Homo sapiens: one gene and its partner. The protein of the gene in region 1 purifies or fractionates together with the protein of each later gene. This does not show direct contact. Each region holds a gene or a part of one and is shown on either strand. Other genes may lie near its edges. The genes, in order: DHDDS and FOXP4.

Region 1 (7,519 bases):
CAACTCTGAGCCTGTTTTATCATTTGTAAAGTAGGCATGAAAACAGTAGTGTCATTTTAAAGTGGTTGTTCAAAGAATCAAATGAAATTATGTGAAAACCCTTTGCAGGCTATTAAATGCTACACAGCTGTCCAGTTGTTGCTTTTTTTCTTTTAACTCAGCCTCTCAACCTACCAGAATAATGAAGTTATGCTGTGAGTAATAACACCTTGTGTTTTTATATTGTTCGTTAGCCACCTTGTAAGGGATGGATTGTGATCCCATATTACAGGTAAGGAGACTTCAACCTAGAGAAATTAAATGATTTGATTCCAGTCACATAAGTGCATGCTGGAGTCAGGGACTAGAGCCTATGTCTTTACACTCTCAGTGCAGAGTTCTTTCTTGTAGTGCACAATGCCATCAGCATTCACTAAGATCACATTTTTCAGTTTCTTCAATGGTGGTTTTCTGCTTATTTGATGCATTAATTCTGACATAAACACTGATGTTATCCTAGCTTCACCCAGCTTTGGGGAGGAGAAAAGTCTGTCTCCTATCTCCAACTCTGAGTCAGGACCAAAAAGTATCTCTTATTTCCCCTTCCCACTCTTCCTTGTATCCTAGCTCCTTGCCTTCTCCCCTCTCAGACTCTGCGGTGGTGTTTGAACCTGGGCATCCTAGAGGTGACAGTCTACGCATTCAGCATTGAGAACTTCAAACGCTCCAAGAGTGAGGTAGACGGGCTTATGGATCTGGCCCGGCAGAAGTTCAGCCGCTTGATGGAAGAAAAGTAAGATGCTATCAGAGGGGAGAGCATGTTCTTCCACCACCCCCAGCCTTATCCTAACCCTTGAAATTCTGTTATCTGAGGCTTACTTAAGGGACTTGCAACTCTTTTTAATGTTAGTTAGATATCTTGGGTGGCAAATATCAGAAATACAAGATAGTCTTTCATTCTTTATTTCTAACTTTTTAATAAAAAAGGGGGCATTTATTTGAGGATATTGAGGGGTGTCACATGATTTAAGAACAAGTACAGCCAGCCTCAAGCAAAACTGAAACCAGGAATTAAACCCACTAGGTAGAACCTCTGTATTCATTTATTTCCACCTCTCTCTGCAGACCAGTTTTCTCTTGCTTCAAAAGAGCAGCCTGGAATCAATAAAATCCCTTAATTGGGATCCCTAAATTCTATCAGATTTCTACCCCAGAGCCAATAAACTATGGCCAAGGAAGTGGAGTTAAAGAAAACATTGAGGAAGTCATTTTCTGCTGCACAGTGAACCCTAAAAAGTTACTGTACTCCCCCTGCATAGTCTTTTGGGAGGGATAGGATGATGCATAAGAGACATTTATGGGGAAGCATCAGTACCATTCTTAGCTGTCAGTAAGTTTAGGCTTAACTTAGGGAATAAAGCCAGAGAGGGGCAAAGACAAATTTCAGTGGAGACTGCTTGCTTCAAAGTATGGAGCCCTTACCAGCCAGAATTGCCCGAAAGTCTTAGTTACAACTGTTGTGTGCCCAGCTCCTACCTGTACCAGGAAGATGAGAGAACAGTGAGCCTAGAACTCCAGTGAAGATGAGCCTAGAACAATGGGTGGTAGGGAGGGTAGCCAGGCTTCCTTCTGTCTATATTAGGATGGTGAGACTCTGGGCTACAGACATTGCTCCCCGGTCCCCAGCAGAGCCTGTGTGGCTCAGAGTTTACACCTAAGGAGCCGGGGATGGAGGCATGGGGGGCATATCCCACTAATCTTACCTTTTTAAAGTGTTTACTATATGCCAGGCTTTGAGCCTAAAATATATTCTTACTCATCCTGTAATCACATTATACCATGACAAAGATATTATTAGCCAATTTTTAGAGAGAAGGAAAGTAGTTAACCAAAGAAGTTAAGGCATATATCCTGGGTCACACAGCTATCAGACAGGCAGAGCCAAGGTGCACACCTGGATCTTTTTGACTCCAGAGCTGAGCTATCATCTACTACACTGTGCTCTGAGAGACAGACCATATTACAATTCCTGCAAGATCAAAACGCATGGCAGAAGAGATGCTAATGAGATTGCGCTGATCAGTTAGTAGTAGAGAAAATGGTCTTCGTTTATCATGAAGTCCTGGCAAAAGCAAGAAGAAACTCAGAGGTGCTTTTCCATTAATGTGCCACAGAACCCCAAGGTCTGAGGAGGTGTAGAAAGAACCTAGTGGGAATGGGGTAGGGGGTGCTGAGTTGCATTTACCTATTTTATGTGTTGGGCTTCTGTGTAGAATTTGATTTGAAGAAAGGGTTCTTTGGCTAAAAGAAGGTGGGAAAACCACTGGCCTGATTCTGTTTCATCAGTTGGGAAACTAAACCCTAGTAAAGAGAAGAGGTTGAGCAAGGTGGCTCATGCCTGTAATCTCAGCACTTTGGGAAGCCAAGGAGGGTACATTGCTTGAGTCCAGGAATTTGCTTGATTCCAGCCTAGGCAACATGGCAAAACCCCATCTCTACAAAAAAATACAAAAAAATTAACTGGGGATGGTGGCACATGCCTATAATCCCAGCTATGTGGGAGGCTGAAGTGGGGGGATCACTGTGATGAGCCTGGGGAGTCTGAGGCTGCAATGAGCTGTGATCGATCCACTATGCTCCATCCTGTGCAACAGATCGAGACCCTGTCTCAGAAAAAATAATTAAAAATAAGTAAATTAAAATTTTAAAAAACAGAAGACAAGAGCTTACACATGGTCACACATCAAACTAGTGGCAGAACTATACCACAAGCTAGCAGGAGGAGCTGAATCAAGGTCTTCTAGTATACTGCCTTCAATTAATCTCCCATTTTCCAAATGTGAAGCATTCGGTTTCTTCATAGCATTTCCAGATGAGAGAAGCTGGCTGAATTCATTCTCACTGTATGCAGAGTTTGGGAGTTATTGTATGGAAGCAATATAATGTCATAATTAAGAAGACAAGCTCTGGAGGCTGACTCCCTACGTGCAAATCCTGGTTCTCCATCAGCTGTCCAAACAAATTACCTAACGTCCCTGTGCCTCAGTTTCCTCATCTGTAAAAGGGGAATAATAAGGGTATATAACTCAGAGGTTGGTGTAAGGATGGAATGTGTTGGTACATGTAAAGCACTTAGACCAATATCTGGCATTTAGTAAACATAGAATGTTAGCTGTCACCATTATCATAATATTTCACTAGAACATAACAAAAGTACCCCATAATACAGCTCCTTCCCTTGAGGAGTTTACTCACTTCTCAAATGGGACAAACTTCACAGATACATAAAATGCAACTGCCCAAAAAGGACACATGAGGTCGTGTAATGTATAGTAAAGAGTTTGGGTTCTTGCTGGACATGGTGGCTCACACCTGTAATCCTAGCACTTTGGGAGGCTCAGGCAGGAGGATCACTTGAGGCCAGGAGTTTGAGACCACCTTGGGCAACATAGTGAGACCTCATCTTTACAAAAAATACAAAAATTAGCCAGGCATGGTGGTGCATGCCTTTAGTCCCAGCTACTTGGGAGGCTGAGGCAGGAGGATCGCTTGAGCCCAGGATTTGGAAGTTAACACTGAACCATGAGTATACCACTGCACTCCAGCCTGGGTGAGAGTAAGACCCTGTCTCCAAAAAAGGGGAAAAAAAAATGTAGTTTGGGGCTGAGCGCAGTGGCTCATGCCTGTAATCTCAGCACTTGGGAGGCCGAGACAGGCAGATCACTTGAGGTCAAGGGTTCGAGACCAGCCTGGCCAACATGGTGAAACCTCATCTCTACTAAAAATATAAAAATTAGCCAGGCCTGGTGGTGGGCACCTGTAATCCCAGCTACTTGGGAGGCTGCGGTGGGAGGATCGCTTAAACCCGGGATGCGGAGGTTGCAGTGAGCTGAGATTGCGCCACTGCACTCCAGCCTGGGTGACAGAGCAAGCCTCCATCTCAAGAAAAAGAATTTGGGTTCTCAAATCAGACAAACTGGGTTTCAATCCTGACAAAGCACTTGATGGCTATATGACCCTGGGCAGTCCCTATCTGACTGTCCTGTCTGAGCCTTGGCACTGAAGTAAGTTTCTTTCAGAGTTGTTGAAGGGATGCAATGAAATAATGCATGTAGAACAGGGTCTGACACACAGGAAAGCACTCAAAAAACTGGTGGTCAGTTATTACCTGAGCACCTTGCTCTCTCCAGCTCAGCAGGGGCCCTATCCCAATGCTGCCTCTTTTCCCTGATCAGGGAGAAACTGCAGAAGCATGGGGTGTGTATCCGGGTCCTGGGCGATCTGCACTTGTTGCCCTTGGATCTCCAGGAGCTGATTGCACAAGCTGTACAGGCCACGAAGAACTACAACAAGTAAGTTCTCAGATTTCCCTATAGGGAGCTGTTTCAATCTTTGATTCCCTGCTGGCTTTAGGGAGACGTCCTGGGCTTTCCTTGGTCTGGATTGGTGCAAGGGGCAATGAGAGAGTAGGTTGAGCAGCTTAGAGACTTTCTCCGTCTGCAGGGCACACCAGACATGATTCTGCAATAACATGTTATATGTGTGTATACTGACACATACACATAGTTTCTCTTTCCTCCTTTCTCTGCCCAGCCCCCACCAAATAAGTGTGTGTGTGTGTGTGTGTGGGTGTGTTTTTACTTGACAGGGAATGGGATCGGAATACAGCAGTTCTTATCCCTGACTTTGAAGACAGATCCTTCAAGAAATTCTTGTTCTGTTCCACTCCTTTAACCTATGGATAGGATGACCTTGGGAGGTCATACAGATGTACAGGGGAATAGAGTTCAATAATCCAAACTCTGTGATGTGTAGCTTTGAAATATAACGTGTATTTTGGCAGTGGACTTGTTTTACATCAAATCTCCTTCCTATTTTCCTTTGTTTGTGCCAATATCACAGTAGAGTCTTCCTCTGAAAGCCGGTGTACAGTAGAAGGGGAGAGGGTTAGGACGGCAATAGGAGCTATTTGGTGGCTGGGCACAGTGGCTCACGCCTGTCATCCTAGGCAGGTGGATCACCTGAAGTCAGGAGTTCAAGACTAGCCTGGCCAACATGGTGAAACCCCATCTCTACTAAAAATACAAAAATTAGCCAGGTGTGGTGGTGTGCACCTGTAATCCCAGCTACTCGGGAGGCTGAGGCAGAAGAATCGCTTGAACCCAGGAGGCAGAGGTTGCAGTGAGTCGAGATCACGCCATTGCACTTCAGCCTGGGCGACAAGAGCAAAACTCTGTCTCAAAAAAAAAAGGAGCCATTTAGTATTTGTCTTATTATAAAACTAGTTACATGTTTATTCCAAGAAAACTTGGAAACCACAAAAAACTCATAATTTCACCTTTCAGAGGTATCCACAATTAACATTTGATGTGTATTTGTTTTTCTAGGGAAAGGCTGGAAGGGCTTCTCTGTAATCAGTGACTTCAATCATCAGTCCCTGTCCCCCTTTGGTAAATTATTCTCTTCTTCCCTCCTCAGGTGTTTCCTGAATGTCTGTTTTGCATACACATCCCGTCATGAGATCAGCAATGCTGTGAGAGAGATGGCCTGGGGGGTGGAGCAAGGCCTGTTGGATCCCAGGTATCCCGAGTTGTTTTGCATGGTAATTGTTAAGGAAAACAGGCCTGGGCCAGCATGGCAGCTCACGCCTGTAATCCTAGCACATTAGGAGGCCGAGGTGGGCAGTCCACTTGAGGCAGGCCAGGAGTTCAAGACCAGCCTGGCCAACATGGCAAAACTCCCTCTTTTCAACAACAACAACAAAAAAGCAGGCCTGTACCAAACCATAAAGCCCCTCTGTGCCATGTACTTGGCCAGAGGTCTAATTAGGGGAGCATGTGGAAAGATTTAAGGGGATCTCCCAAATTTAGAGATTAGGATTGGCTTATTACAACCTGCTTCAGAACTAGAGTTCACCACACACCAAGAAACCCCAGAGAAAGAGCAAAGCAGATGACAAAGCCATGTTATTATTCCTTTACAAATTATACCCTCCTGGCCCTTTGGTAGTGTTTTTCCAAGAATGACTTTTCATGAATGCAGTTTGTTGGGGCTAGAGTTCTTTAGGTCTCTCATGTTCTAGTTCCACACAAGATTCAGGTGTTTTTCTTTTCTTTTTTTTTTTTTTTTTTGGTGAGGCAAAGTCTCACTCTGTTGCCCAGGCTGGAGTTGCAACCTCCACCTCCCAGGTTCAAGCAATTCTTCCGCCTCAGCCTCCCAAGCAGCTGGGACTACAGGTGCATGCCACCATGCCCAGCTAATTTTTGTATTTTCAGTCGAGACAGGTTTCACCATATTGGCCAGGCTAGTCTCGAACTCCTGACGTCGTGATCTGCCTGCCTCAGCCTCCCAAAGTGCTGGGATTACAGGCGTGAGTCACCATGCCCAGCCGATTCAGGGATTTTTCAAAAAGAAAATTATTAATTATTGTCAACATAGTGGAATCCTAATTATTAAAGGTGGAGAGACTTTTGAAGCCATTTAAATATTTGGTCCCTCTCATGTTATTATTTATGTAACTTTTAATATATTTGTAAACTAACAGCAATAGTAAAATAATAGTAGCAAAAAATAACCCAGGAGATGTGTTGTGTTCTGTATTTCATTAAGTCATTAACCTTATGTGTGAGAGATTCAAGGCTGTTGTCCATTGTGTAGATGAGAAAACTGAGTTCAGCATTGAAGTGACTTGCCCAGGGTCACTCTACTAGTAAGTGCCAGAGCTGGGACTCATATCTAAAGCTGTTTGATTTTAGGGTTCTTATCCTTTACCTCTATTATGTGGGATCTTGGGAAGCAGGAATTTTTCTGGTTCCCTTCCCGATTCGATTGACCTAGGAAACTAGATTAAAAATCAAAAAGTTACTTGGTGAGAATAGAATTAGATAAAAAGGAGAGGAGACAGTTTTTGAGGCTATTTTATGAATGCCTCTCCTTCCTAACAGCTGGGTGACATTTCTCTGTCACATAGTTCATTCATTCAACAAATATTTTATTTTTATTTATTTATTTTTATTTTTTATTTTATTTATTTTTTTGAGATGGAGTCTCGCTCTGTCTCCAGGCTGGAGTGCAATGGCGAGATCTTGGCTCACTGCAACCTCCGCTTCCCAGGTTCCAGCAATTCTTCCACCTCAGCTTCCCAAGTAGCTGGGATTACAGGCGCCCACCACCGTGCCCAGCTAATTTTTTGTATTTTTTAGTAGAGACGGGGTTTCACCATGTTGGCGAGGCTGGTCTTGAACTCCCAACCTCAAGTGATCTGTCTGCCTCAGCCTCCCAAAGTGCTGAGATTCCAGGCATGAGCCATCACTCCTGGCCCATTTTTATTTTTATTTTGAGACAGGGACTCACTCTATCGCCCAGGCTGGCGTGCAGTGGTGTGATCTCGGCCCACTGTAGTCTGTGCCTCCCGGGCCCAAGCAGTCCTCCCACTTCAGCCTTCCAAGTAGCTGGGACTACAGGTGTGTGCCACCATGCTCAGCTAATTCTTTTTTTGGAGACAGAGTCTCACTCTTGCCCAGGCTGGAATGCAATGGTA
Region 2 (4,504 bases), on another chromosome or scaffold:
TCATACTTCGAATAAGGTAATAATTGTGGGAGGGCTGCCCCATGTAGGATGTCAGATCAGGAAGAAAATAAATTACTGAGTCTATAAGCCCAATGCACCCAGAAGGTGGTGGTTCATAACAGCTCTTGTTTCTTATATTGCAAGACCCTCTCCTGTACCAGTGTCCAAAATAGATCATCACCCCACCTGCAAATGCACTGACCATTCACTATATCCCTGTGAGAGGAATAAAAAGAGGACTCTAGTTGAAGCAGGAGAAACTGAAGTTAGACCGCGGGAAGGACGGTCCTGAGAATAAAGCTAGGTGCAGTCTTGTCCCTCCAGAGTCTGGCATAGGAAGAATGCCCCCGGGGCTGGTCCACAGAACTGACTACTTCTTCAAGGGGGCAGAGTAAGGGGGCTGGGAGACTGGCAGCCAACACCTAAGGATTCTCTGGGGCATTCTGGTAGGTCCCAGCTGGGAGGGGAAGAAGGGGAAAGGGGAAGCGGCCGCAGCAAAATCATGGGTAATTGTTTTTATTGCATTGTAGAGAATGCCATTGTCCACAGATTACATGCAGCTAGGTTTACCGTACAAGGCCCTGGCAGCCTCCACGGAGGGCTGGGAGGGGCAGATTACAAAACACATCAGTGCTACTTTTTTAAACAGTATCTGGTGGGGAGACTCTGAGACCAAGCTGAGCTCCCCAGCCCCTCTCGAGGTACCATGGGGGACAGGGAATTCACCCCAGGCCCTACACAAGCGTCCAGAGGATTAGGGCTGTGGTGGAGCAGGCCTGCAGAGTGGATGAAGGTGAGACAGAGAAAGCGGGGCGAGTGAGCGACAGACAGAAATAGATGGACGAAAAGGACAAAAGACATGCCTGAGAGTAGAGAGAGGTCAGCAAAGACTCACCCTCCAGGTCCTTCTCCCAGCATTTGGCTGGAGAGTTCCAGCAGTTTGGTGATTTGTGGGAAGGGTGATTGACTCCAGTTCAGCTTTCTCAACACCCTCCCCTCCCCTGCTCCCCAAATACACTCTTCCCTGGGCCTTGTCCCTAGGGACAGGCCTGGGACTCCTTTCTGCCCTCAAGGAGGGAGTGTCCAGAAGGTGGCGTAAGACCAGTGAGAGCCGGGTGCAGTGGCTCACGCCTGTAATCCCAGCACTTTGGGAGGCTGAGGCTGGCGGATCACCTGAGGTCGGGAGTTCGAGATCAGCCTGACCAACATAGAGAAACCCCGTCTCTACTAAAAATACAAAAAAATTTAGCCCGGCGTGGTGGTGCACGCCTGTAATCCCAGCTACTTGGGAGGCTGAGGCAGGAGAATCACTTGAACCTGGGAGGCAAAGGTTGCAGTGAGCCGAGATAGCATCACTGCACTCCAGTCTGGGCAATAAGAGCGAAACTCCATCTTAAAAAAAATAAAAAATAAAGACCAATGAGACGGCTGAGGCCCTGGGGATGTGCACAGGGGTCTGAGGCGGCGGGAGGGGCTCTGTGTTGAGGAGGGGCAGCAGGTGGGGAACCAGGACTTAACACGGGATAAGAGGTGCAGGCTGGTGTGCTGGGGCTGGGGGAGGTGTCAGGGGCCATCTTTGGCTTAGCAGCTTGGCCCTTGGCCTCTTTCCTTGCAGCCTATCCAGGGTCCCCTTTGTATAGGTTGAATGATCCCGTTTCCGCCGTGAGCCCACTATGATGACCATGGTCACCACACAGTGTGCCACGTGGGTGTGCACGCACACTAATGGTCCTACTGCTTCAGGATGCCACCACCACACCTGGGCACTACACACACACACGCCTATCCAGGCAGCCCCCTTGAAGACGTGGACAATGGGCCTGGAAGGACACCTGGGAATGGGTGTGGATGTCTCCAGAGCTGGTGGCACAGGTAAAAGAACCCTGCGGCGGTGGTCCTCTCCATCCCTGCAGCAAATCAGCTGCCTTGCTCCAACACTCTGGCAAGAACTTGGATTTCAAACTAGTGAAAGAACTAGGGCAAAGGATTGGGACTCTGGAAGAAAACAGGAAAATGACAGAGAACCCTGTTTAAGCGTGGAAGGGACAGGAGGCACAGGGGAACCGGAGGTGGGTGGGCCCTGTCCACAGTGAGGGCACATGCCCAGCGCCCCTGCAGGGCTGCTCATTCCATCCACTCACAGAAACCACCACCACAGCGACCCTCACGTTGCTGCTGCTCTGCCCAGGCTCCCCGAGCAGAGCGATCTTTCAGCTTTAATGCTCCTCCCCTCCCGCACCTCGGTGACACACACAGGGCCCGGTGAATAGAGGACGTTTAATATTTCTGTGCTGGTCAAACGGAACACAGGTGGGGAATACATGGGGAGGGGGCGGAGGGCCCCCTGCCTCTCAGGAGGGGTGGCTTGTGAGGGGTGTATGTGGGGGGTTCTTGGGAAATATCCAAGGAGTCTTCTCAGTAAAGGGGCCAGGCCAGGGGTGTTATGAGCATCCGATACGCCCAGTCCTTGGCCTTGAGTTGGGGGTCCCCCATAGGGGGTCTGTGGAGAGTCTGACTTTTTTCCAGCTCTTTTGCTAGAATCCACACTCCCAGCACGACGGGTGACTTGGTCCTAGAGAGGGGTCTGGAGAGCCCCCAGGAAGCAGCCCAGGGTCAGGGAGAAGGGCTCCCGTGCCCACTCCTGAGGGGGTGAGAGCCCGCTTTCTCCCCTCCTTTCTCCTTCCCCCAGGCTGGGCAGGAGCGGAAGGGAGGGGGGCAGGGCCCTGCCTCCACTGAGCCCCAGGGTCCTCAGGGTGGATGGAGGAGGGGTGGAGAGAGAAGGTCTTGGCCACCAACAGACACTGTAAACTTTGGTTTAAAACAATAACTTAAGTGGAGGGAGGGCTTCCAGCCTGGGGCCGGGGTGGGAGACTGGGAGGGCAGGTGCTGGGGAGGCGACAAAGGAAAAAGCCAACAAAAAGTTTTGGTTTTTGCTTCCGGCATAAGAAAGGTCTTTGGTCATCCGTTTAACTGGTGGGGCGGCGGGGGGAGAGGCGGGCAAGGAAGGGGAGCTGAGGGTGACTGCAGAGGAAGGGGAGCTGAGGGAGGGTGAGAGGACTGCAGAGAGGCCTGCAGGCTGGATGTGGGTGTGGAGCCGGGGTCCAGCCTGGCCTTCCCCTGGGCTCCCGGCCCAGGCCCCGCCTCTGGCCTCAGGGAGAGCTTGGCTCCACCTGCAGAAGCGCACCTGGCACAGACCTCTGTGGGTGAGGCGGTACCAGGCCTCTTCCCATGGGGGCGGCTGGAGGAGCCCCCAGCAAACGGGGGTGGGGGTGGAGGCCTGGCTCAGCCTGGTTCTGTCTCAGGTTGGGGGCGGGTCTGGAGCCAGGTGGGCCTGCTCACACGGACCCCCACAGGGCACACAGACAGTCCCACCCCAGCAGCAGAGGGGGCTGTTTCTTCTGGGGATGGAGGCACAGTTCCTCCACCCAGGCCAGGGCAGGGTGGGAGCTGGGGTGGAGAGTTCTTTCTTCACAGTACGGAAAAGAAGGCGGAAGGGAGCACGAGTTAGGAAAGTGGGGGCCTCTGGCCAGAAAACACGGCCAGAGCCAGGTGCCAGGGGGCCCTGGGTTTGAGGGGTGGCTAAGCCCCGCCTGCGGGTCTCCATGATGCTGAGGGGCCCTGTGGGGAGAGCTGGTGGGGGAGGAGGGCCCTGCTGCTGCTGGTGGTTGGGGGGAGGCAGTTTCAGATGTGGGGAGGGTCTGAGGAGGGGTCTGAACCCTCCGTGTCCTCTACTGGTCCAAGACCAGGGGTTGTGTCCCTGGGGGTGGGGACCGTCCCTGCCCCTACGTGTTTTTGTCAGGTCACACTGGGAGCTGCTGGCCCGGGCCTCCCCGGTCTGAGTCCTGGACTTGCCTTGAGGCTCGGGAGGGGCTGTGGAGTTGGGGGAGATGGGGCCTGGATTCTGGAAGGGAGGGGTCTCACCCCAGCCCTGCCGGTCACTACAGGCCCTTAGGACAGTTCTTCTCCCGGCAGCTCCTCCTCCAGGTCCCTGTCTTCCGGAGGCCCCGAGGCGCTGGGGTTAGGGGCGCCCAGGGGAGGCCCGGGCTGCCTGTCTTCCTCTGCCTCTGCTGGCTCCTCCTTCACCTGCACCTGGTGGCTGAGGCAAAAGTATGGCATGGGCACCAGGCGGCTGTCCTCTGATGCCCTCTGCCCCCTGCCCCCCAAACTCACCCAGAACTCTGGGGCACAGTGGGGTGCCCACAGCCCCCTCCCCAGGATCCCATCAGACCTGAGGGCTGATCTCCCCTAGGGCTCTCTTCAAAGAAAAGCTGGTCCTGGGGCAGAGACTGCTCTGGGTTGGGGAGGAGAGAAGAGGGGAGCAGAGGGGAGATGAGCGAACGGAGGAAGGAGAAGAAAGATAGAAGAGAGGCCAGGCGAGGTGGCTCACACATGTAATCCCAGCATTTTGGGAGGGCGAGGCCAGTGGATCACCTGAAATCAGGAGGTCGAGACCAGCCTGGCCAGCACGGTGAAACCCCATTCTCTACTAAATACAAAATAATTA

Evidence for each region.
Region 2: the proteins of DHDDS (region 1) and FOXP4 purify together in Homo sapiens (affinity purification with mass spectrometry; 3 studies listed by BioGRID and IntAct, with this or other methods). This does not show direct contact.

Annotation. Positions count from the first base shown.
Region 1 is NC_000001.11:26,442,102-26,449,620, forward strand, and holds part of DHDDS (dehydrodolichyl diphosphate synthase complex subunit DHDDS), read left to right. Parts: intron 1-606; exon of another isoform or gene 607-629; coding exon 630-772; intron 773-4,214; coding exon 4,215-4,331; intron 4,332-5,457; coding exon 5,458-5,559; intron 5,560-7,519. UniProt on the Homo sapiens protein: With NUS1, forms the dehydrodolichyl diphosphate synthase (DDS) complex, an essential component of the dolichol monophosphate (Dol-P) biosynthetic machinery.
Region 2 is NC_000006.12:41,598,381-41,602,884, reverse strand, and holds the end of FOXP4 (forkhead box protein P4), read right to left. Parts: intron 4,163-4,504; exon of another isoform or gene 4,097-4,162; coding exon 3,949-4,096; 3' UTR 501-3,948; downstream 1-500. UniProt on the Homo sapiens protein: Transcriptional repressor that represses lung-specific expression.